Homo sapiens: one gene and its partner. The protein of the gene in region 1 interacts with the protein of each later gene in a pairwise test. Each region holds a gene or a part of one and is shown on either strand. Other genes may lie near its edges.

Region 1 (11,868 bases):
TTCTTTCAAACCAGAGCCTGAGAGAGTATTTCATTTTCCAAAGTTTTACAAATTATATAATATATAAACATATATGACAGTATGCATAAATCTATTTTTATATAAAATAGTATCTTTATACCACAAACATCCTCTCCCTTTTATGTCTCTAAATATTGGCTGATAATATAGATTCCTTTTCCCAAATTATCCTTTTAACATCATGGTTTGAGGGTAATTTTTCTTGATAGGTTTAAAAATAAACATGTTGTTCTGGTTTGGGGATTTAAAATTTTTTCAAAAGGACTGCTAATATTAAACATTGCGTGAGTTCAGAACGATATGCAAAATTGACAGTTAATTGATCACTGATTCATTCATCCATAGTAACATAATAAATCTTCCTTAGCAGTCTCTACACTTAATGACCTATGAGTATAGATGTGAAAATCTAGACATCAAGTATGTCACCTTTGATAAAGATAGTTGAGAAATAACTTGTTTTCTGTGTAGTTTACCTTAAGTCCACTCTTGGCATTTGTCCTCATATAAATTCTGTTTTTATTCTATGGCTTGGTGAGATAAATTGTTAGATCTCTAATTTAGACACAGAGTGCACCTACATAATAAATCCAGTTTTATTATTACAAATAAACATTCCAAAGCACAGAAAGACAAACATTGCATGTTCTCACCTATTTATGGAATCTAAAAATTCAAAACAATTGAACTAATGGGCAGAGAGAATAGAAGGATGGTTCCTAGAGCCTTGGAAAGGGAGTGGGAGCCTGGAGGGGGGCAACTGAGAATAGTTAACGTAATGGGTACACACAAAAAAAGAATGAATGAATAGGCATACTATTTGATAGCAGAACAGGGTGACTATAGTCAGTAATAACTTAATTGTACATTTTAAAATAACTATAAGAGTATAATTGAATTGTTTGTAACACAAGGATAAATGCTTGGATGGATACCCCATTCTCCGTGATTACTTAACGGATAATAATGTGATTATTTTACATTGCATACCTGTATCAAAACATCTCATGTACCCCATAAATATATGCACCTACTATATCTGCAAAAAAAAAAAACAAAAAACCAACATAACCAACATTCCACTCATTGAATGGGTATAAAAGACGCTTTAGGGTCGGAGGAGAAATTAGATGTAGTGAAACTGGAGAGTGATGTATCATTGTATTACATTTCTTCTGGAAAGCTCATTAGCCTAAGGGTCTTTTGTAAATGAGACATCTTTCGGGGTGGGGGATAATTATTCACATCCCTGGATTAGGTCTACATTCATTCACTCGTTCAACAACTATCTGAATGTCTACTGTGTGCCAGGCCTTTGCCAAGCACTGGGGATACAATGATCACCAAAAGAAAACAACCTATGCCCTTGCAGAATTTACAAATTCCTCAGTCATGGTTGTCAATTCTTGTAACAGAGCTGTTGATAACATAGGCAATGATAACTATTAATTGATTAATTGTATAGAAGGTTTAGGTGCTACTATTAAGAAAAATCTTACTGCTGAAACATCTTCTAGAGCAGAATTTCTCTGAATGTGGTACCTGAAATATTACTTTTACAGGACGTTGGTAAATGTTAACTGGAAGAGAGGTAAAATGAGTCAATTTATTTACTTTACGACTTCTTCGAGCCTTTTTAAGTTTCTACACATTTTGATTCTGCAGGAAGGCTGTATTTTTTTCACACTTTCTATGCTTCTTTGAGCATGAAACCTGAAATGAGTCACATCTTACTGGGCTTAATGGATCCATGGAACACACTTTGAGAAACATTATCTTAGAGTTACTAGTTGTTAAAGGAAAATTCCAAGAACTCGAATTTTCCTCTAAGTGGCTCAATAATGCAATTAATGAGTTGAACAATGCATTTAGCAAAACTTCCAATGAAAGTTTTATATACATGTCCTTTTTATAGGCCTCTATCTATAGAGCTGTATTATGCAAATGAAAATTTTATTAAGTTCACAGATAAAACTTGTTGCATTAACTGGCTCGTAGGGTTTACATAAAAAACAAATCTAATCAACAAAACAATAGTACTGGAAGATGGAGTTTTAGAAAGTCAATAAATAACTCATTTTCCTTTCTTGATTTAGAAACTTATTTTCAGAAATAAGAGATTTAGGCAGAGGGAGATCAAAATCTCAACTTTATTTCCGGTCAAAGCTGGATTGGAGGGTGTAACTCTGACTGTGGCAACATTTGACATCTTACTATTGAACTTTGAAATGAGAGAAACTTACCAGTCTCACCCACAGGGCAAGCCAGTGTGAATCCTGTGCAGGGAGCTGGATCCCACACAGAGACAGAGGAAGGGTGATCCTGAGCTGTAGATGCCCAGTTCCTTTGCCTAATCCTCCAATCAGTGTAGCTCTTTCCACCTTTGTAGAGAGGAGAAAAGGATGGAAATCAGAGGCTAGGAGTCTTTAGGAAAATGCTTTCTTATGGAAGCCTGAGAAAATAAGAAGGGGGTGCCCAACACTGGATACTTCAGGAAGCAAAAATTGGGCTTTTTAAAAAAAATCATTTTAAGAATCACAAATACTTTTTAGTCAGTTTGATTTTTATATGATTTTTTATATAGTAATATATTAATTAGAGTTTTCCAAATAATAATTACTTTTGGAACTTTTTATAAAAATGCATATTCCAGAACCACAACAGATCTATCATGTCAGAATATCTGAGAAGCAGCCTGGGACTTTTATTTTTATTTTTATTTTTTTGAGACAGAGTCTCACTCTGTTGCCCAGGCTGGAGTGCAGTGGTGCGATCTCAGCTCACTGCAATCTCTGCCTCCTGGGTTCAAGTGATTCTTCTGCCTCGGCCTTCTGAGAAGCTGGGATTACAGGTGCCCACTACACGCCTGGCTAATTTTTGTATTTTTAGTGGAGATGGGGTTTCACCATCTTGGCCAGGCTGGTCTTGAACTCCTGACCTCTTGATCCACCCGCCTTGGCCTCCCAAAGTGCTGGGATTACAGGGACTTTTAAATTTTTAAAAATTCCCCAGATAATCTTCATCATTGTTAAAGTGTAGAAAATACTAAACTGTAGAAATTGACCAAAAATATCTGCTTTATTTAGGAAACTGAAGTGGATCAGAACATTTAGATGATCAATTTTTTTTCTCAATTTTTTTTTGGATATTTTAGCCTTTGGAATAAAATATTCCAAATTTTATTTGGATATTTTTCTCAATTTTTATTTGGATATTTAGCATAAATTTATTTGGATAAAAATTTATCCAAATAAATTTTTATTTGGATATTTTATTTGGATATTTTAGCATTCTCAATTTTTATTTGGATATTTTAGATACGCGGTGAGAAGCTGGTGAGGCAATATTTTCCTGATGAGATGCCAGAACAATCACCATTGCTTTAATAGAATTTGTTCAGTGGCACTGGTTGTGTGGAAAATTGTTTTCTCCTCAGATTTATGGTTTTTTCTCAAAAATATGACAGAATACTGTGCTCTTAAAGGAAAGCTGCTTTTGTTTGATCCATTTGGCCTTAAGGGAGGGAATACATTTAATAAGCACTAATTAGATTAGTTTCAAGTTATTCTTCACTTGGGCTATAAGAATTGTTTAGTTGGCATGAAAGGGGATTAGATAATTTATTAACTGGCATAAATGACAATTATGGCTGAAAATCATAAATTATGGCATATGACTAAATAGAAAGAGAAAAATATGTTGCAAAGAATGATCATGGACATTGCTCATTTAAACATTCTTTAAAAGAATATGTGTACTATGAATTACCAGTTAGGTGTGCAGATTAGTAATAATATAGCTAATTTTCTATTTTTACTTTATTCAGAACTGAAAAACATCTAAAAATAGTGAGTTAAAGAACGTTTTTCTTTAACCAACACTTGAAAATATACTCCAATCGTTTCAGAGATAGTAAGATGTTTTTATGTTTATATAACTTTTTAATTTTGTTACATAAACTGTTGTTAGAAGTTGAAGATGGTTTCCTTAATTTTTATTTTGCAATCTTTATGGATTGAATTAAAAAATAATTTTTGGACATGCTAAATATTCTGAGAGGTGTTTAGAAGTAGATTCTATATCCTTAGAGAGCCTCTAGTTCCCACAGCAGCTTCTCCAGGGAAAAGCCCTTCTTCACTATATTCACCACAAATTAATGGCAGTTATTCATTTTTTAAAGCAGTACCAGAAGCTGATCTTAGCTTAAAGGGGAGGCTTCATCTCACATATGAGCAGCAAATTGATTTTCTCTTCATGGCACTGTATCGATAGGGTTAAGTATTTTGATAGAAGACCATGCTATTTAATATAAGTAGATTTTCAAGAAAATCACTATGCTAAATACTTCACTAGAAGGACTTTATCTATATACAGCAGCAACTGTGACCTGCTTTAGAGATGACATCATTGGGTGTCATGTGGCTCTTTATACGTTTCAGCCTCAGAAAGAGATAATCTGTGAAAGCCACAGAGCCTGATTTCTGCTGTGATAATCTTCAGCAGACCGAGGCTGGGGCGAGAATGAGGCAGACCTGTTTACATGGTGTGTGCAGTGCCTTGTGGAATTCTTAACTCTATTTTATTGTATTATTTTTAATCGAAAAGTAGATCAGATGATAGCATGAAGTGAATCGGCTGCTTTGGACTAATGGGATCTTCTTTTCTGCATTAAGATCAAGAACTTTTCTGGAATCCTCTGTTCTCCGAGTAGCCTTGTCTTCTCTGTGTGTTTTATCAATTTGAAGAACACTGGCAAAAATCAGCAAACTTCATCTCCCAAAAAGCTCTCGCTCTTTTTTGCCAATACTTGAAGATTTCTGCTCCAAAATCTACTTTGAGCTGCTTGAGCATGGTGGTTGATAACCGAAGGGCAAAAGCATCACTTATTTAGTGTGTGTTATAGAAATTTTTTAGACAACCTTACTAGCTAACCCAGGTGACCCTTTACGGATTTCTTTCAAAGCCAATTTGAATAAACAACTCTTCCCTCTCAAATGGGCAAGAGTAACTCTTCAGCACCATGGAGAGGTCCGGGCAGCGTGTTACAACGTGGGACTGTGACCAGGGCAAGCACTCTGACAGTGTAAGTTTTACAAATGTCTACCATCTATTTTAGGTGTATCATATTTTTACAAATGAAGAGAGAAAACTTCAAAGTCGAACTAAGTAACTTTAAATTTAAGCTGATGGCCTTCATTACATTTTTAAATTCAGAATTAAGCATTTAAGGTATATTGGAATGTTCATTTGAAAAAAATACTTTCTCATTGCATAGTTAGTATGTGGATATTTGGTGCTTTGAATTTTGAGAATCTAAGTTTGAGTGTTCTTTTTTGTAGTGCACCAAAACTAATTGCATTGCAGTGGACTTTGGAAATAGCATTTTAATATACACATGTAAATAGTTCCAAATGTACAATCTGTTGCCCTTTGTATGCACAAGACTCTCTTTGGAAAGTAGTTCCTGATTTGTACAGTTTGGGAAGATCAGTGTTAAACTTTTTCAATTTAGATTATACTTTCAGTTACCAAAAGAACAAATGTCTAGGTATTCTAATGTCAATACATGGGAGATATTTGATGACTTAAAAAATCTCAAATTTATTGGTATGAAATGTATAGAGTGGCAGCTTATTATAAGTAGAAATAACAGACAATTTTATAAAATTATATATGGGCTATTGAAATAGTACTTTTAGCATTATTGAAAATAATTAGTTTCAAAATGTTCAATTTAAATCTTCAAACCAGAAATAAAAAAAATGGTTTCTTCAAAAACATCTTTTAACTCCATCTTTTAGACTATCAAATTTGTAGTTCTATGATATTATTATATGACACAACCAACGAAGAAATAATACTTTGAATTACTACCCAGAATGACCCCAACAGATATTTTGATTAGCTATTCAAATTTTTTTCTAAGAGAACATATTGTCATTAAAAAGTAACTTTAACAAATCATGATTCTTTTCTCAGGCCAATTAAACTTAGTTTGGAACATTTATTTATGCAGAATCATTTATTTTAAAGCCTAATAAAATATATTTTTATATAATTGTATTATAAAATTTATTTCCTTTAGTAGTTTTCTTCATATTTAAAAACCAGTAGTAAATGCAATTTACTCAGCTTGACCTCCAATTCAAATATAATGGATTCTTTCTGTTATGGATAATTTCCAAGTGAATTACTGTTGCTTCTTAACTCTTCAGTAATTTGGCATTTGATTTTGGGATAAATGGTACTTACATTTTGACAGTGTATGAAGTGCATAATTTTAGAGGATGTAACAATTTTATATAAAGGAGACCTTAGTATACATTTTTGTCATCTTTGCTCAATAGATCCACTGATAATTTCCATAATTGATGTCAGTATTTAAAAGGCCTCAGTTTTTGAAAAGAATGAAAGGTAGATTTATGATTTCAGTTTTTTTAAGTTTCATTTCCCAAAATTTTATTATTCTGCTTTGGTTTAATAGGTAAGTAGGACTTTTCACACACCATTGCATGTACCTCTGTGATTTTAAACTTAAATTGTTCCCTTATGGCAAACTGTATCCATTTGCAGCCCCTGATGAACTTTGAACAAATCATTCTGGTTTATTAAATTGTACATTCTAATCCAGAAGAATCCAAGACTCATGTCATAAAACGCATCTGCTTGCTGTGAAATGGTGTCAGATTTTATTCTGATTCAGAAATTTATTTGATCTTTGTCTCTGTCTCTCTGAAGGATGTGACTCATTTGTGATATTGTCAGAAGTGTAACTTTTATATTTGCTGCTTTTTTTCCAAACATTTTAGTGATATATTTATAACTATTATCCAGCACACACATTTTTCTGTAGTTGAGATATTGTTGTCTATGTATTTATTTAAGCAGAAATTGTTGCTGTATGACAAACTACAAGCACATGTTTGCTTCTGTTTTGATAGCCTTTCAATCATTATTGAAACAGTCACCTGAACAGTAGAAAAATGTTCAGAGCTAAACTGTTAGATATTCACATTTCTTTTTCTTTCTTTCTTTTCTTTTTTAAATAACATTCTGGTGGTAGCAGATGTATGTGAACAATCTTAAATTTAGTTGAGTGACATTTTGCTTTTCTTGCCAATGTAAAAATATGCTCCCAGATCTCTTTACTGTGGTCCACCCACCCTTGCAAGGGATTTATAACCTTTGGCTACAAAGAATGTAGGGGCATATTTATTTATGAAAGCCACCCTAGTTAGGATGCTTTGCAGGGTGGCTGAATATAGAGGCAGCTAATTGGCGGGTGTGGTTTTTACTGCTGATTTTAACCCTTTTGGCACTAAGAAAGATTAGTTCATCTTGGAAATAGTTCTTACATCCAAGGTATTCAGTCTCATCTCTGTTGCATCAGTCTCCATCACATATTCCTGTAGAAGCAACTCCCCTAGCTACAGTCCCAACAGGAGAAGTTCCAGTAGGGAAGAGCCTGAAACTGAAATGTGTTGCAAGAAGGTCCTAAATGGTAGCTTCTTAGAGGGACATAGGGATCCTTGGGGTTATTTCAGTGAGCAGGATGCTGATTGATTCCAAATGGGTTCTAGGCTTGTTTAGTATGTCTCTAACACTACAAGGGGCACAGTGGACATTAGAGGCTCAAGAGAGGTACCCTAGCATCCCAGAGAATCACTATAGATTGATGATTCATCATAAAACTTTCTATCAAGTGATTTTTGTCCTCAGTTACTACATTTTACTGTTATTCCTTTCTCTGTCCCAATTTTATTTGCAAGGTACATTCCTACTTTGTATTACATGATGGACCTAACTAGGTATGACCTGACTGATTTGAGATTTACATTAAATATTACTAGAAATGATGGAGTAATCTTACCTTTTCCAGAGAATAGAAAAGAGCTTAGGGACTTTTCATGCAAGATATACACATTGCTGAAAGTCCAGGAATATTATCCAAATAGAAATGTCTGGATATGATGCTTTTCTCACTTTGACTAATTTTTCAAATTCCAGTCCCTCTAAATGGATTTTACTCTCCCCCATAAGTAAACTTAAGTTGCAGCATGTAAAGAACAAGTACACATCCAGGCAGCCAGTCCTAGGGACGAAGTCAGCCCACTTCCATCTTGCCTAATTTGTCCTGTAATTCTGACTCTCATCTTGGATTTTTCACACCATCTCATCTACACTTTTGGAGTTGACTCACTACATCACACAGTGCCTGATTCCATTAATAAGACCCATCTTGATGCAATACACATTTTGAATCCAACATTCTGGATTGACCTCAGTAGCATGCTTCTCTGGAATGCTGTTTTAGTGCTCGATCTCTGACTCCTGTGCACCACAATGGCAGGAAAAAAAAACCCCACTTCTCCACCGGTTTCATTTTGTGTGCTTTGAAACTGATGGAACTGTACTGTGTAGAATACAATGTTGGTATAGAAAGCATGTACATTGATTACCCATGATATAGTAAATATCTATTTTTAAAAGCAGTCAAAGACAGACTCAGCCTAATGATGTGACAGTAGATATAAAAGAATATAAAGCTTCAGTGCCTTAGTGCAATTCATACAAATTTGCTTATGTTTCATTTTTGTTAAGATTCCTGGAAATATAAATACAAGCATTGTATCTGGACTTTAGTATGGCTTGGAAGAATTTTTTCTGATGTCTTGGTGGAGAAGATAAAGACCTGTGAATGGAATAATAATTTGGAGCTAGAAACCAATTTACTGACCCCTGGGCAAGGGAATTTCTATCAGAATATGTGACTAGTAAGGGACCTCAACACTGAGCAATCAGTGGAAGATTTATGGAGAAATTAAAAAATAATATTTACAGGCTGGTGCAGTGGCTCACGACTGTAACCCCAGCACTTTGGGAGGCTGAGGTGGGTGGATCACCTGAGGTCAGGAGTTCGAGACCAGCCTGGGCAAAGTGATGAAACCCTGTCTACTAAAAATACAAAAATTAGTGGGGCATGGTGGCAGGTGCCTGTAATCCCAGCTACAGACTGAAGCAGGCGAATCACTTGAACCCACTGGGTGGAGGTTGCAATGAGTCGAGATCATACCATTGCACTCCAGCCTGGACAACGAGCAAAACTCCGTCTCAAAAGAAAAAAAAAAAAGGATGGAGCTATTTTTCAACGGTATAGGAATAAAGCATTGAGCTTCTCATCACCAGAAAGATGAGTCACACTGGATGACCCACATAAAAGATGCTATAGAAGGGGACTCCCTAATGGTGTGTGTGCATGTGTAGCAGAAGGGCTATGTGATCTCTAAGGTCTTTTCCAACTTAGACATGGATAAGGGTCATCAGTGCAGTGTCATCTCATTTAAAAAAGAAAGCAATAATTTCTTCATTCAACAAATATGTACTGGGTACATACTCTTGTGATTACAAGAACTGAGATGATTAATCCTCCCTGAGCTCCTTGAGAAACCACCCACTTGAAAAGGAGTAAGGGGAAAACTGGGAAATAAAACCCCAGGTAGGTTTTATTTTAAACCTCAGGAGTTGGGAAAAACCCAGGAGGGAGAGTAAGATGCATCACTTGGATCTATTTGAGAAGGGAAAACTAGGTTAAAGGAGAAAAAAGCAGAACTGGAGTTATAATTTATCTTTTCATTATCTCTAGCATAGAGATACTACAATGCATAAAAAAGAAATGAAAAATTTAGAATTCATTGATCACTAATCAATTCTATGATTCTATTTAGGACTGTCAAATCTCTAATGAGCTTTTTTGCTCTTTCGCCTGTATCCTTTCAATCTGTATAGCTATAGCTGCATCATATACCTTTAAAGATTCTGTTCCAATTGTCATCTATTCTTTTATAAATTGGGAGAAATCCTGAAGCTGTAGACCATCAATTCAAGGGGTCAATATCAAGTCAGCATAGATACTGGCCCTGCTCTGAATTTGAATCTTTGCTTGATTAATTTATCATACATGGTGAATCTAGGCTATGCTGTAACGAAGGGATCCCCAAAAGTATAATAGCTCACAAACAGCAGTTTTTTTCCTGTTTAGGCATCAGTACTGAAAGGGGAAGCAATACAGTGGGGTGACCCTTCTTCATATAGTCATTCAGAGAACCCAGGATGGTGGGAGCTATGCCATCTTCAACACATGGCTCTCAAGACCACCTTACAGTTGTCTCCCTTCTAGCAAAATAGAAAGGAAAAAGGGCACATGTGGGAGGTTCTAGTGGGCCCATTCTGAAAGAGGCACACATCACTCAACTCACATTCTTTTGACTGAACCCAGTCACATGCTGATATGGTTTGGCTGTGTCCCCACCCAAATCTCACCTTGAATTGTAGCTCCCATAATCCCCATGTGTCATGAGAGGACCCAATGGAGGGTAATTGAATCATGGGAGCAGGTTTTTCCTGTGCTGTTCTCATGATAGTGAGCAAGTCTCATGAGATCTGATGGTTTTATAAAGGGCAGTTCCCCTGCACACACGCTCTTGCCTGCTGCCATGTAAGGTGTGCCTTTGCTCCTCCTTCACCTTCTGCCATGATTGTGAGGCCTCCCCAGCCATGTGAAACTGTGAGTTCATGAAACCTCTTTTTCTTTATAAATTACCCAGTCTCGGATATTTCTTCATAGCAGTATGAAAATGGACTAATACACATGCCATACCTAACTGCAAGGGAGGCTGAGAAATATCCTACAGGTTACATAGAAATAAGAAAATAAAATAGATTTTAGAGCACTTAGTACTTTCTGCCATACCTGGACTTCTGTTCTACTGTGGGAAGACTTCTTCCTCCAAACCCACAGTTCCTGTTGCTGTAAACCTGGTATAGCCTGCTAGATCTGCTTGATGTTAATTTTACTGCAGCCTTGACCATTGCTAATTTCAGTCTTCAGGTTGCAAACTATAGAACTTGACCCTAGGTAATTTAAGCTGAAAAATAATTTATTAGAAACACAACAGATAACTCACTAAATTGACAGGAAGGCTAGAGAATCAGGCTCAGAAAAAGGGAACTAAAGGAAGTTGGTTGGCCAGAAACCCATGGAAAGGCACACACAAGAGGCAACATTATTGGAATGCTGTTGGCCTCAGTACATTGGATGCAATGGTTACACAGTTCAAAAATACCCCTCACTTTTCTGAGACACTTCTTCCAGATCCAAAGTCCTGAACTGGGCCATGCCATTGACTGGTTTAGATCATGCATTCAGGCCTGATTGCTAGAATTCAGGGAAGGGAATTTCTTCTATAATGGGGGGTAGAGTCCTGGTGCTTACTGTAATATGCATAGCAGTGTATTCTGTAATTATGAGAGGGTCTCAGATAAACTAAAAAAGAAAAGCCAAACTCCAGTGTCCCTGATGTTGTAAAATGCCCCTGATGTCACATTAGATCTTCTGATGACCATGGTGATTCTTGTTGACTCCAGTTGGCCACATGCCTAGACTATGCTTTATTGCTATGCCTAGACTATGCCTTGTTGCCCCTCCTGGAATGTGTGTTTCCACCACTTTCACTGGTTTATTATACTAGCCTGCCTAGTAATCTCTATGAATCTTTCTCTGGCCCTTTTTGATGCTAGCTGAGCTTTTCAGGTCCTTTCCTAGAACACTTGGCCTTGTTTGGAGAATTTAATCTAGACCTGGGACCTATGTGATAAGTTGCAGGGCCATCGCTCAGACATTTGACTCATCTCCTGGAGGGTTTTCTCATCTGTAAAATGAATAAGTCGGCTCAATTCCCGTTAGTCTCAAAGGGACACGAAAGCTTAACAAGATCGTGCTTCGAGATATTTGGAACACAGGGTGGCATTATCACATTATTATTTTCACAAGCTGTTAACCTGAAGGGG
Region 2 (11,779 bases), on another chromosome or scaffold:
TACTAAAAATACAAAAATTAGCTGGGCGTAGTGGCGTGTGCCTGTATTCCCAGCTACTTGGGAGGCTGAGGCAAGAGAATCACTTGAATCCGGGAGGTGGAGGTTGCAGTGAGCTGAGATTGTGCCACTGCACTCCAGCCTGGCGACAGAGTGAGACTCCTTCTCAAAAAAAAAAAAAAAAAAAAAAAAACAGGGATAAAACTGCTATGACCATTCTTATGCAGATCTTTTTTTGGAACTATGTTATTTTTCTTGGGTAAATAAATAGGTCTCTTGGGGAGATACCTAGAAGTAGAATTGCTGGATAATAAGAGTAGATGTATGCTTAACTTCATAAGAAATGCCAGTCATTTCCAAACCCCAGCATGTGGTATTGTTAGTCTTTTTAATTTTAACCATTCTCTTTTGTGTCTGGTAGTAGCTCTTTGCGGCTTTAATCACATTACCTGATGACTAAAGATGAGGAGCATCTTTTCATAAAGTTGTGTTCATTTGTGTAGTGTCTGTTAAAGTCTTTCTTTCCTTATTTATTTATTTTTTTGACACAGAGTCTCACTCCGTCACCTACGCTGGAATGCGGTGGCATAATCATGGCTCATGGCAGCTGCAACCTCCTGGGCTTAAGCAGTCCTCCCACCTCAGCCTCTCAAGTAGCTGGGATTACAGGCGCTTTTTGTTCATTTTAAAAATAAACTTGTCTTTTTGTAAATGGATTATAGGAATTCTTTGTATATTCTGGATAGAAGTTCTTTGTCAGATATACGAATATTTTTTGTGACTATTTTCTTGTAGTTTAGGGCTTACCTGTTCTCTTAATTGAATCTTTTGCTGAACAGAAGTTTGTGTGTGTGTACACACACGCTTTTTGAGACAGGGTCTCACTCTCACCCAGGCTGGAGTTCAGCATGATCATGGCTAACTGCAACCTCTAGCTCCTGGGCTTAAGCGATCTCCCACCTCAGCCTTCCAAGTAGCTGAGACCACAGGTGTGTGCCACCATGCCTGGCTGATTTTTTAATTTTTGTAGAGATGAGGCCTCCTCATGTTGCCCAGGCTGATCTTGAACTCCTCTACTCAAGGGATCCTCCCGCCTTGGCCTCCCGAAGTGCCCGGGCCAGAAGTTTTATATTTTAATGAAGTCCAATTTATTGTTTTTTCCTTTTATGGTCATTGCTTTTTGTGTCCTGCTTAAGAAATCTTTGCCTATCCCAAGATTTCAAATATATATTCTTAATTTTCTTCTAGAAGCTTAATATTATAGTTTTTGCTTTACATTTAAGGCTCTGATCTTGTTTTATGGCTTAGCATATGGTTTATTCCATGGGCTCTTGAAAAGAGTATTGTTTTGCTTTCATGGTACAGTTCTACAAATGTCAGTGATGATAGTGTTGTTCAGATCTTCTTTGGCCTTGCTAACTTTTTATCTACTTGCTTTCTCAATTATTGAGAGACAGGTGTGGTTACCTATGACTATGTAACAGACTACTCCAAAACTTACTAGTGTTTGTTTATTTATTATAAAGGATTTATCATTACCAAATCTGTTTTTGGTGATTAACAAGCCACCCTGAAACTTGATAGCTTAAGATAATTTGTTATTGTCTTAATAATTACCAGTTCTGTGGTTTTATTGGGCTGGATTGAGCAGTATCTTGCTTGGGGTCTTTATTGTGATTGCAGTCAGATGAAGGCTGCGGCCGAAATCATGTGAGGCTGCCTCTGGACTGGTCTTCTAAGCTGATATCTTGCCCCTTTCCTGGCGTCTCAGTTGGAATGGCAGGAACAGCTGGGGCTGGCCAGGCCCGCTCCCCGACCTGCTCTGTCTGCTAGCCTGGGCTGTCTGACTGCTTTCTTTGTTGCCAAACCACTTTCCTGCTTTACTTCCCAGCATTGTCATTCCAGCCCCACAACACTAGCAGTTGCTTTCAGTCCTCTGTGTCTGTAATGATCATTTTTCCTTTGCTTGCTGTGTTTCTGCCTTGTATGCTCTGGTTGAAATCTTGTTTTTATACTTTCACATGCAATTCAGTGACCACATCTTCTCTCGGAATCTATTTTTGGTCCCAGTCAGAATTAATTGCTTCCTTCTCCATGTGCCTATGAGTAAACCTTTGTTAGTGTACTTACTGTTTTTCGCTATTATTAGAGTTATGTGCATATTTATCTCTTCCTGGTGGGCAAAGGCTGTTTTACCTTTGTATGCCAAGTCCTGTGCCGTGCATCTAGAGGTTTTGAGGACAAAGCACAGGAGCACAAGGTCTGGATTCCATTCCTGGATTATAGTAATCAATTATTTGGCCGTTGGCAAGTCTTTTACTCTATTTGAACCTTAGAATCTTCATTGGTAAAACAGAGGCAGTGATATTTGGCTCACTGGGATGCACTGAGAATTCGATGAGGTGACCTCTGGGAATGCCTGGCGTCATACTTTTTACACAGCAGGTGATCAGTCAGTGTTTGAGAAATTATAAGTGTTTTGAGTTGAATGTTTCTCTTCTGTGTTTATGAAGGGACAGGAGACAATGATCAGATGCTTTTTGTGTGAGAACGTTAGGAGTTAACATTGGTTGAATGTGCACCGTGCTCCAGTAACTGTTCAAAGCTCATCGTCCATTTCTTAGCTTACTTGCGTGACTTGATGTTTGCGAGGTTCTGGAACAGCTGCATCACATAGTAACTGTTCACTGAAATAAAAAATAGCATCCTTATTACAGCCCTACGTAGTAGATGGTGCCATTACTCCTATTCTGTAGGTGAGTCTACTGAGGCACACAGGGGTTAAGCAAGCTTTCAAAGAGCTATTTAATAGTATGTGGCAAGGATTTGAACCCAGATAGCTTTTACTCTCAACCATTACCCTATAGCCGCCTCACAGCCATGTTTCCTTGGCTCTTAAACCTTGCAGCTGATTCTCATTCATTTTTAGGAAGATGAGGCTTCCATTTTCATTAAAGGGTCATGAACCATATGTGCATAAAATGCGAATTTGCTGGTTTGCTAGAAACATAGTTGAGAACCTGGGATATAGATGAGGCACCAATTTTATTACACTGATGTTTCTGAATGTTTTGGGAGTTCACAGTAGTTGAGGTTAGACATTGTAAATGAGCTGGGCAAACGGGTTGGGGACTCTAATGGAGACCTGCCACTGTCACTAAGCCTCATTAGAAAATTACAGCATTGATGAAGATTCTTACTTGGATTTGTCACTCACGTGTATTTTATTTTTCTGACCAGCAGACTGGCCATTGTTTGTGCATTGTTTTAATTTAAATAGGTCCGTAAGAATTAACTTTAAATGGACAGTAGTGATAGTTGTGTGATAAATTGATGTGATTTGAGTCCCTACTTTTGCTGAACTCTTCTTGTGGGGGAAAAAATATTTGCAGTTATTAATGAAAAATCAAAGGTGAAAAAACAGGTGTTCTTCCTTTCATAACAGGTGTTCTTCCTTTTTTTGCTTTTCTTAGGGATTGAGGAATGATTTGAAAGCAGCCTTGGATAAGATTGATCAGCAGTACCTCAATGAAATCGTCGGCGGTCAGGAGCCTGGAGAGGAAGACACACAGAATGATCTGAAAGTTCATGAGGAAAACACCACAATTGAAGAGTTAGAGGTAATCTCTACACCAAGCCCAGCACATCCCTGGCACCCTTCTTTTTCCTCTGGAGCAGATGACTGAGTCGGGCAGATTGTTGAGGGCAGAGCACACTGTTGTCCTTGGTCTTTTGTTTATTTACTCCTCGCTTTTATTTATTTACTCCCCTTTTTCTCATCCTCCACTCACATTCCCCTACTTCCTGCCTTCAAAAGGAACCCATTCTAATATGTTGGATATGCATCTTTCTGTTTGTTGGTGCTCTTGTGACCTGCAGTGTTTTGTGAGCATGTATTTTTGATTTACATAAATGATGTTATGCTGTGAAATTCTTTATTCCGTGTTTTACTTTTCTTTTTTTCAGTTAGCACTATGTTTTTAAGAGCTATCCTTGATGCTCTGTGTACACTGAATCCTTTGCTTTTAATTGCTACATAGGATTCCATGTGTTACGCCATTCACTGCATTTGACTTTTTGTTCTCCGGTAATGATGGACAGCTAGATTGTTCCCAGCTCTCTCCTACCACAAACAGCTTCCTGATGAACAGTCTTGTGCATAACCACGATGGCCTAGCAAAGTGGGATTGTGGGATTTATATATGTATATTTAACTTGTCTAAGTACTGCCAAGTTACTCTCTGGAATGGCTGTCCTAGTCTACACCCAGCAGTGTGAGGGTCCCCTGTCTTTCCAGCCCTGCCAACGCTTGGCAATATCTTGCTGTCTGATTTTTGCTATAGTGCTGCTTTTGGAGTGTTAGTGTATAATCTTAATTAAAAAGCAATTTTGTATCATGTAAGTAGCATGTAAAATAAATATGGCTTAAAGTTCTTAATGCTTAAGGAAACATAAACTTATTTTTCTGTTTCCTTTAATTCCTGGCTCTTGTATGTGTAGCTGTCCCTCTGAATAAGATCATAGTTGAGGAAGACGTCATTTTAATCCCCTGCCTCCTCCAATACCTGTCTATGGTCCCTAAATTTTACTAAAATAATTGGTATGGGCAACCAGTTGTGGGCTTTTTTTTTTTTTTTTTTCCTATTGGTGTATTTATTTGTTTATTTTTAAAAAACAGCTTTATTGAGATATTGACATACCATACAGTTGACTGATTTAACATATACAAATCAGTGGTTTTTAGTATATTCACATGGTGGTGCAACCATTATCACAATCTAATTTTAGAACATTTTGGTTCCCCCAAAAAGAAATCTCACATTCATTACCCCCTCTTGACTTTTCATAAAAGGTAACATGCTCTCCAAATTTAAGTGGCAAATCCGTGTTTTTTGTTTTTGGTTTCTTATCTAGAAATTCCATCCGATTTTTAAGTAAAAATTGAACAGCATATGTGACCAAGAGCCATGTTTAGACTGGTGTTGGTAATATATATGTTTAGTTGTTGCTCTGTATTAATGAACAGAAGCATTGTTTCTTTTTCTTCAGGCGCTTGGAGAGTCCTTAGGGAAAGGCGATGATCATAAAGACATGGACATCATCACCAAATTCCTGAAGGTGCGTGTCTTAGGCGAGGGGATGAGGATGCCTTGGATCCTTATGAACTATTCTTATATTTTTGGATTACCAAGGGTTAAAGGCTGGAACGGGAAAGCCTCAATACACATTTCTCACACATACATGATGTTTATGATATCACTATGCACTTGATGTAGCAGTTAGTAAGAGAAAATGCATATTTACTTTTCTTGTGGCTTTTTTTTTTTTTTGGAAACAGAGTCTTGCTCTTGTCTCTCAAGCTGGGGTGCAGTGGTGTAATCTCAGCTCACTGCAACCTCCACCTCCCGGGTTCAAGTGATTCTCCTGCCTCAGCCTCCTGAGTAGCTGGGATTACAGGCACCCACCACCATGCTTGGCTAATTTTTGTATTTTTAGTAGAGATCGGGTTTCACCATGTTGGCCACGCTGATCTTGAACTCCTGACCTCAGGTGATCCACCCACCTCAGCCTCCCAAAGTGCTGGGATTACAGGCATGAGCCACTGCGACTGGTCTGCTTTTCTTGTGGCATATTTTTTAAAGCTGGCTCATTAATGTAAACACATAGAAAAGAATCACAACAGCAGAATTAATAAGAAGTTGGTAGAGTTGCTTATTTTTTTCTTGAGGCAGAGTCTTGCTCTGTCGCCCAGGCTGGAATGCAGTGGCACCATCTCGGCTTGCTGCAACCACTGCTTCCTGGATTCAAGCGATTATCCTGCCTCAGCCTCTCAAGTAGCATGCCACCACACCCGACTAGTTTTTGTATTTTTTATTTATTTATTTATTTATTTTTTTAGTAAAGAGACAGGTTTTCACCCTGTTGGCCAGGCTGGTCTTGAACTCCTGACCACAAGTGATCCACCTGCCTCGGCCTCCCAAAATCCTGGGATTATAGGCATGAGCCACAGTGTCCCGCTGAATTTCTAGACAACCCAAGGAAGAAGAGGGTTCTAGCTTTTTTTTTTTTTTTTTTTTTTTTTTAAGCAAAAGTGTCTTTCTCTGTTGCCTAGGCTGGAGTGCAGTGGTGTCATCCTAGCTCGCTGTAACCTTGAAATCCTGGGCTCATCAACCTCCCGAGTGGTAGGGCATGTACCACCATGCCCAGCTAATTTTTTAGTTTTTTTTGTAACCTTACAGAGAGTGCTCAATTCTTCAGTTCTACAAATAGCTGCCTATTTTTGCTGACTTGCTGATTCCAACCGTCTTCTCAACATTTCTCTCTTTAGTGGTCTAGATAGAGTATGAACAAATCCCAGATATTTTATTGTTTATTCACAAACTGTGTTCAGACCAAGAGATTTACATGCAAGGAATGCTTTTTCTTGTGTGTACAGTTTAGATACAACATATTATTCATCAAGATTCTGAATATATTGAGGATACAGCATGGAAGTAGATAGGGCATAAGAATTAGTATGAACTAGAATTTCCTCTTTGAGTGATGGCCTCTTCTTTTTTAGGATATGCATAGATGATGCCCCTAGAGGACAACATCCTCCTCAGCCTTCTCTGTTTCCTACTTCCAGGAAGGGTGCCCTTTATACAGTTAAACCCAAGGGGCACTGAGGTAGTTATCTAGGGGTGGGGGTGGAGTGGGAATGCTGGGTCTTGGCTTCTTTATTTCTGTTTCTCTTTCTCCTTCCTCTCCTTTAGTCAGGTGCTTTCATGGTTTTTAAACTTAATCATGGTCTCTACAGCATATGTAGAAAGTCCAGTTTTCTTGTAACTCGTAACTTGTTGAATTTTATGTATATAATACAAATACAAATACAAGTTTATTTCCTCTCAAATAGTTAACTATGAAACTTGATAGTTGTTTTCTGAGGGAAGCAAATTATCCTGAGCTAGGAATAGATGTAGACTAGGGAAGTTGGTGACTTGCCAAAGGTACTACTTCAAAGCATTATCATGACCAATAAGCAGAACTAGCTTATTCTATATTATTTGGTGGCATTTTAATCAAGACATTTACTTTAAGGATGATTGTATTCTGTTTTTGTGTGCTAGAGAGCATTTAGATGTACTGAACCACTGGGTGGCATTGTAGTCTAAGTTTACCCATCCTTTCAACAGTTTCTTCTTGGCGTTTGGGCTAAAGAATTGAATGCCAGAGAAGATTATGTGAAACGCAGTGTGCAGGGTAAACTGAACAGTGCGACCCAGAAACAGACCGAGTCCTACCTAAGACCACTTTTTAGAAAGCTACGGAAAAGGGTGAGGTTTCTTGGAAAATACTTTTTTTAACTGACTTTAAAAATACAGTATAAATTTAGAATAAATGCAGTCTGTTTTTTCCCTATACATCTATACATAGTAGCTTCCAAAATTTCTTATTTATTTTTTTCAGAATCTTCCTGCTGATATTAAAGAATCAATAACGGATATTATTAAATTCATGTTGCAGAGAGAATACGTGAAGGTACATTCCCATGCTGTTCTTTGAAATTGTTAAGAGTATATCTAGGTTATGTACGTAATATAATGTTCATTTGGGATAGGAGGATTTTACATAGTAGATTTAAGAATAAATGTGAGATGAGTTAGTAGTAAAAAGCGTTTTATTTTCTATTGTATTTGCCAGCTTTACTGTTAGGCAGTGAATAACAAACCTGACTAAGAAAATACAGACCTCATCTGTATGCTCTTGGTCATTTTTAAAATAGGCCTAAAGGTTCTTCAGAGCATGAACTTTATATAGGCAGTGTTCATTTTATGAATTTCAAAGTTTTGTAAATGGCTGATTATGTCTTGGAACAAATTTTCCCATAGAAACAACGTTGTATAGATGAGTTTCCCAGGATGGTCATAAAAGCCCCTTTAATCTGTAATATAGCTGAACTGTTGCACTGATGGTACAGTGGAATTTAACCACTCTTTGTAATTGTTTCTATGGGGAAATGGTTCAAGCAAGGCTTCCAGGACTCATCTCTCCCATTTCAGCGTTGCAGACCCCTGCAGTGGAAGTCTCTCCTCCCTTGCCCCAGTGTCTATACTCCTGAATGGGCTCTGGGAGGCAGCGGTGAGGGAAAGGGTGCTGGTGTCCAGGGCTCCCTGAGATAGAGTTTAGAAAGGGATGAGAGGAGGACTGTCAGTTGGTACAGGGGAACAAGAAGGGAAGGGCCCAATGCACCAGTAGTGGCAATGAAGAAAGAACAGAGTTTGAGGGAGGCTTCTTGTGGCCGTGCCTCCCAAGGCACTAGGAGTAGAGCATTTCAGTGCAGCAACCCCAGTGCCAGTGCCAGAGCGGTAGGGAACTCGGAATGACATTGCTTATCCAGTGCTGTATCTGTATACTGACGTAACAAGGGACTGCTGGCATTCCTGAGTGACTGGATGATTTACGTGATTAGAGCCTTAGGCTAAAGAGGTTCCTGCAGTGATTTTACTCCTTTTAAGAGCCAGCCAGTTTTCTCAAAGAAAATATTTTTTGTCTTACAGTTATAAATGTGCTTCTTAGTTTCTGTCAGTTGCATGATTCTTACTAAGGATGGTTGCATTGGCATGGATGGATAAGGTCACCATCACTGCAGGAAGAATGCACATCACTCCCTGCTAGAATGGATGCCTTTCCTCTTACTGCTTTTTCTCGTGATCACATATCAGAACTAAGTGCAAGTGCAAGCTTATTTTGTATAAACTACAGAAAGAACCAAGAAGCTTTAATAACCTGTTTAGACAGTTTCTTTGAAATTTGGGGGAAACTAAATATTGCAGTTTTTATCAGTTAAGATCCAATGTTAAAGTTTATACACATGAAAATTAGTGATAAAAATGTACATAGGCCCTTTTTAAATTAAGCTTTATAAAACCGGTGAGCAGAGCAAGTTCACATTTATCTTTAGGGTAGAAAATGATCTTCCAGCTACCCTATCTGTAGTATCTGATTTTAAAAAAATTGACTCTCCCTATCAATCTCATAGGTGTCTGATTTTTTTAAATTAAAATCTCCTTGAGGCCTGGCTTTATAAGCTTCTCTTAACCCTTGAGGTCCTTTAGAATTTATTTGCTTTATGTTTTTCTTGTTCTTCCTCACAGCTAGCCAGGCTTGGTTAGGAAAAAAAGCCTTTTGTCTTCATTGGTTTCTGTCTTCATTTTTTGTGGCTGTTCTTTAACGGTTCTTGGCAGGTAGGGGGTGGGGTGGGGGGCAAAGTGGAGCGATCTCATCCTTCAGCTATTCGACTGGAGGGCCAGTGTTTCCTCTCTGTTTACACATCTGTTAAAGACCCTGTGTGGTCGTCGGCACATACTGAGCCCCCACTTCCTTCAGAGAGCCACAGTGCTGTGTAGGGAGTGGATATTGTTTAGGGTTGGACGATGAAAAACTACTTAGCCCCTGTCTTCTACATGACCCCCTGTGGAGAAGACTGGGTCTAAAGGAGACCAAAACTAGAATTTTCATCAGTGCATTGAAGTGCCTACCTGGTAATTCCAGATCTGCAACATATTAATTTCCAGCATACAAAGGCTGCAAAGGAATGTTTGCCTTTTTTTTACTCACAACCTAGCTTTGGTTTCTGTTTTTTCCATGGACATTGGTGGTCCTGGGCAGGGCAGTCTGTTACCCTGTATTTTAATCTGTTTTGTTTGAATAACAGTCATGGTAATATTTTCCATGTGCCCAAAAGGTGGACGAAAATTACATCATAAAGGGCTGTGAAATACTTTCAGTAAGAATTTGAGCCAGTACAACATTTTCGCCTTTCTGATTTCTTCTTACACTTTCCTTTCAGGCAAATGATGCTTATCTTCAGATGGCCATTGGAAATGCGCCTTGGCCCATCGGTGTCACTATGGTTGGTATCCATGCCAGAACTGGCAGAGAAAAGATTTTTTCCAAGCATGTTGCACATGTTTTAAATGACGAAACTCAGCGGAAATATATTCAGGTAAGCAGTTTGGAGAGCCGGGAATTGCCCTGGAAGTGAATATTCTCTAATTCCCAAAACTCTAAGTCTGGAAAGCAGGCAGAGAATTACAGCAAATAGAACATAGCGTGATAGGATGGAAGTCCCCTCTGGATAAGCACTGACACTGAAGCCACCTTCACTGAATAAAGTAAAAACCTTTCAACTTTCATATATGTTGGAAGACAAGGGTGAAGTATTGTGCTTTAATTACCTTAGCACTGAAATAAAATGATTGCAGTTTGCTTTTTTTTTTTAAGACGTGTATTAGGAAGTAAAAGTTGAGCTCATCAGAGAAATGTGGGAGTTTAGTGAAGAGCAACAAACTTAGAGTATTTTACAATAAATCCTGCTTTGTTGCTTTCAAGGTAAATCTAACATCTACTGGGTTCAAGATGTATGGAGAGTAAAGACTTGGCTTTAATGTACGTAGCACGTAACAACACTTCTTTAGTCATGTGAATAGGTCTAAAGTGCCGATGGTTTGTTTTCTTCAAGTTATACATGCTTCACATAAACTTGTTGGTACTGTTTTTGGGCTAAACTTTTCTCCCTAGTGGGAAGAAAATCGACTATAATGTAGTGTTTGCCAGATTGTCATAAATCCCAGATTGTGTCTGTAAAATGACTTGCTGGATGATAGTTCTAAAACTTGACAGTGATACTCCGGAAGTTTACTTAAAATTTGAAGTTCACTTAAAATGCATAAAGTGCTTTCAGATTTTGTGCCAGAGAACAGTCATTACCATATTCATGAAATATCTTTTTGTTTTTATTTCACTTCCAAGTGCTGAATGTTAATTCGTGTCATGCTTTATGCCTTAGTCACATATAATAGCTTTTTAAAATATGATTTCAATCGGACTCCCTCATGTGAACTGTATACAGAGTTCAAATATACTTCTGGAAATTCAACCACATTTCCATTTTTTAATAACCACCAGTGAGTGTATTAAAGGCAGAAGCTTTTAGCTGAAAAAAAAAAAAGTTGCTTAGCTTTAACAATAGAAAACAGGTTCCAAAGATTAAATTTGCTAATTGTGTTCATCTATATTGTGGCCAAAGGTATAGTGTATAAAAGTTCATATGATTAAATCAATCGTCTGAAAGACATTTCTTATAAACAGTAATGTGATTTTCACCTCCCCGAGGAGTGATTTTTTTTTAAGTATACCTAGCATTTATTCAAGAATTCTGGTTTATTTTGGAAGCTATGTAATGACCTGTCCTTACTCCATTGTTCTTCCTTTTTAACTGTTCTCTTCCCATTAAAAAAAATTCTTCTTTTGCCCCCTAGGTGATTAGAGAAAATTGATGAGCATACTGTATTTGAAATTTAGCTAGGTGTTTGAGGCAGACCCAGTGGTATTCTTGTGGATAGGGCAAATCAGGCTGGACTCATAGCTCATTGACAGAGGGAAGCCATGGAGCATTAAATAATGGACTCGTGTCTCTTAGGGTAGATGCTAGAGATGTATGTCAGGGGTCTTAGGGACCTCAGTGCTGTCCTGTCGAACCTTTTAATGACTGACTTGGATGGCTATACCGAAGGATGGGTTTATCAGGTTTGCAGACAGCAAGAAACTAGAAGGGATGGAGTGTATGTTAAGGTGGAAAAGAAACTGCTATTCTAGAAGTTCTTGACAGACGAGAGAGAAGGGCAGAGTCTAAAAATACAATATTTAGGAAGGAAGGATTACCATAAGAAAATTGGACCCATATACCCTTTTGCTTAAGCTTATAATTTGGGCAGTGGATATAAAAAAGAATTAGAGG

The links.
Region 2: the proteins of SCHIP1 (region 1) and PRPF18 interact in binary tests that used the Homo sapiens proteins (3 or more experiments, as listed by UniProt).

Annotation. Positions count from the first base shown.
Region 1 is NC_000003.12:159,268,780-159,280,647, forward strand, and holds the start of SCHIP1 (schwannomin-interacting protein 1), read left to right. Parts: upstream 1-4,464; 5' UTR 4,465-5,041; coding exon 5,042-5,104; intron 5,105-11,868.
Region 2 is NC_000010.11:13,606,569-13,618,347, forward strand, and holds part of PRPF18 (pre-mRNA-splicing factor 18), read left to right. Parts: intron 1-3,470; coding exon 3,471-3,617; intron 3,618-5,046; coding exon 5,047-5,115; intron 5,116-7,172; coding exon 7,173-7,313; intron 7,314-7,446; coding exon 7,447-7,518; intron 7,519-9,829; coding exon 9,830-9,985; intron 9,986-10,371; coding exon of another isoform or gene 10,372-10,413; exon of another isoform or gene 10,414-10,428; intron 10,429-11,779.